2 separate regions of the Homo sapiens genome follow, and region 2 is linked to region 1. Evidence: fine-mapped expression QTL. A gene starts in region 1. The other region holds a variant in brackets. All regions are shown on one strand. Distances are from middle to middle.

Evidence for each region. PIP is the estimated chance that this variant, and not a neighbour inherited with it, causes the effect.
Region 2: its variant is the best candidate, but not a certain one, in a credible set for the expression of ARID5B in whole blood (INTERVAL, PIP 0.66).

The regions. Positions count from the first base shown.
Region 1 is chr10:61,900,734-61,903,233 of GRCh38, forward strand. ARID5B (AT-rich interaction domain 5B) reads left to right here and starts at 966. Exons shown (of 10, transcript NM_032199.3): 1 at 966-997; 2 at 1,426-1,680. The coding sequence starts at 977. RefSeq lists an enhancer at 656-1,158 and a silencer at 2,398-2,500.
Region 2 is chr10:62,189,351-62,192,385 of GRCh38, forward strand. It overlaps a transcript of RTKN2 not described here. Among named protein-coding and RNA genes, the nearest start is that of LINC02621, 68 kb to the right of the region's middle. The variant C/T (reference allele first, on the strand shown) is at 1,844.

The sequences.
Region 1 (2,500 bases):
GAGAGCGCCCTTGGCGTCCATCAGCATTGTAAACACGTACTAGTGTATATACTTCAAAATTAAAGAATGCACACGCAGAACCGGGAGCCTGAATTCATATTCTGAGCAGACTCGCTTCTCGCATTTATTGATTTATCATGCATCGTTTATTGTTCCAGTCCCTAAATGCAGTCGCTGTCCGTTCAATATTGTTTGCGAAATCCTAAGATGTGTGTGCACTGCTCACTTGTCTCTTTTTTTTTTGCTGAGTATTTTTTTGCGAAGCGAACAAATGCATTAATATTTATATGTTTATATAATCGATAACCCACTTTTCCCTTCCATGTAAATAGGCATCAAAAGATAATTTAACAGATTAGTTCTCGAAAACATGGCAGTGAGGAAGCGTAATTTAACTATCAAACAAATCTACATGTCTAATAACAGCAAATCTGCTAAGAAGCATTAGAAAGAGGAGCAGCGCCCCGGAATCTCTGCAGGAAATGTTCTTTATATTAGACATATACAAGCAGGTCCTGTCAGATGCACAGTGGAGCTCGCTACCCCTCCTCTCCTCCAAAAATCTCATCAGACGATATCCCAGACAGGAGCGGTTAGAGAGAGAGGAATCACATCTCCACACAGTTTTAGGGTGCTTTTTATTTTTACAAATCTTCTTGTGTGTTTTTTGCCTTGATCCATCCTCTTCCCGCCGAGATCGTATGGCGCCTTTCTCTCGATTATGAATTTGATCAATCCATCTTTGGAAGAAAACCCACATAGTTTTTTCAGGAGCTGAAAATTGAGTCGTTATAGAAATATTAGGACATATTTTCAATCATTTCGGTGCCCGAAGGGAGGCAAGAGCTCAGTTTTATATTGAGACATTACGCCGGCTGAAGGCAGAGAATGCGTTTCCCTGCCAGGACCTGATGCAATCCATTCAAGCCAACAAGTTTGGAGAGAATGTTGAGTTCAATCAATTCAGAACGTCGAGATGGAGCCCAACTCACTCCAGGTATTTCGCTCTCCTCCGCTCCTCCGATCCCGGCACCCCCCGGCACCCCCCAACCCCCCAGCTCACCCACACCTCTGCACCCACCCACACCCCCCACAAACTTTTCACCAAACTTTTACCCTCTGCATCCCCCAAAATCATTTTTATTGTTTAAAAAAATCCCTGCACTGATCATACATACATAATGTAATTTTACCGCCTCAAATGGGGAGGTGGGTAGAAGTGGCGGTGGGGGGCCCTGAGTTTTTTTTTTTTTTTTTTTAGGGAAGCAGAAAATTTGTGGGTGCTATTATTTTTCCACCCAGCGTTATATCTGTTGGGTCGTCTGTATTAAGAGAGTGGATGTCTGTGTGTAAATGTGTCTGGGAATAGATGTTTGTGCTCTGATGGCTACATTATTTATTTGGTGTTTTTTTCCCCCCCTGCAGTGGGTCGGCTCACCGTGTGGCTTGCACGGACCTTACATTTTCTACAAGGCTTTTCAATTCCACCTTGAAGGCAAACCAAGAATTTTGTCCCTTGGCGACTTTTTCTTTGTAAGATGTACGCCAAAGGATCCGATTTGCATAGCGGAGCTCCAGCTGTTGTGGGAAGAGAGGACCAGCCGGCAACTTTTATCCAGCTCTAAACTTTATTTCCTCCCAGAAGACACTCCCCAGGGCAGAAATAGCGACCATGGCGAGGTGGTAAACCTGTCTGTCCCCCTCTTCTTTCTTTATTATTTTTCCCCCTAGTAATGCTTATTACAGGGCAAGCTTGAAAATACTGTATTCACTTCTGCAGGCAAGCAGGATCGACTCCTTTTTTAAAGGGGTAGCGCCACTAGCTGGGGCTCGAGTATTTTGCCATTGTCAGAGTTTGGCTGTCAGCTTTACAAAGAGGATCCAACTGCTGATTTTAGTCAAGATCAAATAACTTGTTCGAGAAGGGTTTTGTTCAAGGATGTGTGTGTGTGTGTGTGTGTGTGTGTGTATGTGTGTGTGTGTGTTCATTTGCTCTCCTGCTATTGCCTCTTGAACATCACATGCTTTTTATATTTTTTGCCTTTTGAAAATTTACCTTCGTGTCTGGCTCGGTCGTGTCTGGGTGGATTTCTTTCGGTGGGTTTCGATATTGTTCTTTTTTCAAAGTAAGTATTTGATATGTTTAAGAGGGCGGAAATTACGAAATGGAGGCAGAATGAGATCAAAAGCTATTGAGTTGGCAAAGACGTGTTGAATAAAGTGATAAATGACAGGTACTGGAATAATACATTCAAATAACTTGCAGATCTGCCCGGGCGGATTTCAAAGCGGTGGTGTAACAGGCACAAACACGTTAAGCATTAACAACTATCTCTCGCCCACTCCCCCTCCCCCCGGACAAGCCATTTGATGTTCTAGTTTGCAATTACTCCACGCAAAGTGGACGTCCTCCTGCGCGATCTTTGGGGGTGTGTGGGACGGGGGCGGGGGAGGGGAGGGCAGAGGGGTGTGTGCTCGCCCACTGGCCCTGCGGGTCCAG
Region 2 (3,035 bases), 290 kb after region 1:
GCAATTATGTTCTGTGATTCATTTTGAATGTCCAACTCATGACTCTGAAAGGCCATTCTAACAAGCTAGGAGAGGAACAGACTGTATTCTTTCAATCTTGATGTTGCTGAGGACCCCTGAGTTTTCCTGTCAACCTTTCCTAGGCATTCTTCAGTCTTCTGAGTGATTCCAATAGCCTATCAATAAATTCACCCACCAGGTGCAGTGGCAAACGTCTGTAATCCCAGCACTTTGGAAGGCTGAGGCGGGCAGATCACCTGAGGTCAGGAGTTCAAGACCAGCCTGGCTAACATGGTGAAACCCCATCTCTACTAAAAATACAAAAATTAGCTGGGCATGGAGGCACATGCCTGTTGTCCCAGCTACTCGGGAGGCTGAGGGAGGAGAATGGCTTGAACCTGGCTTGAAGGGGAGGTTGCAGTGAGCCAAGATCACGCCACTGTAGTCCAGGCTGGGCAACAGAGATTTTTTTTTTTTCTTAAAATAAATAAATTCACCCACCTTTTTTTTTTTCTTCATTTTCAGCTTAAGTTAGTTTCTGTTGCCTTCTACCTAAAGAAATGTAATTAATGAAAACCAACTCATACTTCAAGGTCTGGTTCAAATACCACTTCTTCTAGTTGTCCCAGATGTCTCTGGATAGAATTTATCTTTTCCTCTCATTCATATTTTTTTTAGTGCTTTCTGCAGCCTGACAGTGGAGTCTATCTAGGTTTACATATGCTCAAATGTTCCTTCAACCCAGGGCCAAGCATTATGCACAGAATAATATAGGCTGGATCTAATTGCGAAGGAAATGGATTTTCATTTAGGGCTTTAATGCAAAGGAATACATCAAGTGACCACATTATTGGGGAAAAAAGAGTTTGGAGGCTAGTCTGGCAAACCTTGGTCTCAATGCTTTTTTGCTATTTCACGTTTATCAGAGGCTGTTGGTATACTGAGGATGAGAGCACTTTCTTCAATAACTGATTAGGTTCAAATCCTGTCTCCACTTACTGGGAGACTGTGAGCAAGTTACTTAATTGTTTTGTGCCTCCAATTACTAATCTGTAAAATGGGGATTGTTAAAATACTACCTCATGGGGTTAAAACATAAAACAGATAAACTTAGAGCTGCTTTGGCCGAATTAGGAGAGATCCAGAGACTCCCTCGCCTGGCATCACCCTACTGGTTGCCACCTCCAAAGGCATCAACTCAGGGACTTAGGGCTGTCTAGATCAATTTGAGACAAACACCAGTAGCCATCCCAGTTGTTAACTAGCCATGTTGTCTAGAACAAAGTATTTACTCACCTGTTTAATGTTAATAAGGAAGTTGAACAGGTGAGTAAATACCTTGTCCAAGACAACGTGGCTAGTTAATGGTAGCCAGGGGCTGAGTGCTCATTCTCCTAACTCCGTCAGCTCTAGTTCTGATGCCAACTATTCCAGCTTAACCCGTCTTACTTTCTTGAACTAGCATTCAAGGTCCTTTATGTGGTCCAGCATATCCCATCTCTCACCTACTGCCACATTTGCTTCAATCATGCCTACTTGTTTTACCTACAATTTACTTCACAATACGCTCATTCCATTTCTGCCCAGCCAACTGCCTTATCCATTCATTCCTTTCCACTTCTATGACTACTAACCTCCCTTTGAATGCTGCAAAATGAAACTCCTCCAGGAACCCATTGGATGAATTATCTTCTATTTTACTCATCCCTTCTAGATTTGAAAACCCTATTATTATTAATCCTTATATCTTTGCAAGATATTCATAGTATATACTTTTGCACTTCTTAACTCGTTAGTTTTTTGAGGCAGGGTCTCACTCTGCCCAGGCTGGAGTACAGTGACT[C/T]GATCACAGTTCATCGCAGCTGGAACTCTCGGCTCAAGTTACAAGTTATCCTCCCACCTCAGCTTCCCAAGTAGCTGGGACTGCAGGCATGTGCCACCACACATGGCTATGTTTTAATTATTATTATTTTTTGTAGAGACAAGGTTTCACTACATTGCCCAAGCTGCTCTTGAACTCCTGGGCTCCAGCAATCTGCCTGCCTTGGCTTCCCAAAGTACTGGGATTATAGGCATGAGCCACCGTGCCCAGCCTTAACTCAATCCGTCACAGATCTTTCACAGCACTTAAAATGAGATGCTAAATTGTGTAATACTGATTACTCTTTCATACTGCCCACAGTGTTTTATGTATTTTTTAATCTTTATAACCTAAGTTTCCCAGTGGCAGGTAGGGATTGCTTGTATCCAGACAGATTTATGTTAGATATATGGGAGGCAGGTCAAACCATGCTTCATCTCCATAGTCTCTAATGATTGGTTCTACTCACCGGAATTCACGTGAGCTTAAGAATAGGCTGTCTTTTAATTTATAAGCCCCAATAGTGCCAAATATAGAGTTCAAGAGACAATGAACAATAAGTATTTGGATACACTTTTAGGTATTTCCTAAACTTTTATGCACTGTGAGCCTAACATGTTCACATCAAGCAAGAAATGAAAATAGGAGAGGGGTTATAAGTGACTAAGTTACTGTGTGTGTGTTGGGTCTCTATCAGCTGTATCCTCTTCCCTCTTCATACACGTGTTACATACTATATGTCAACCTATAGAAACAAGGCAGGAACTTAAGTATTAGGTCCTAGACTATGTGTTACATGCATTACCTTATTTAATAAACACAACTATATTATAAGGTTTTTTTTTATCTTAAACATTAAAATAAAAAACCCAAATGAGGTTAAAAAAAAAAAGCCCCAAATCATATAGCTAAGTCATGACAGAGCTAGAATTTAACCCAAGTCTAACTCCAGAGTCCGTAGTCAACTACCATGCAGTATATGACCCAGAGCAAGTCTTCCACTCTTGTGTGTGTTAAGGGGGGCTACTGAGAGAATATGGTAATGATTAATTTATATAAAATATTTAACACAGTATAGTATCTTACACATATTACCCAATAAGCTGTACTCACTCTCATTACAGTATACTATGACAGGGTTAAATGTCAATAAAACATGCTTTCTGCCCTTGAA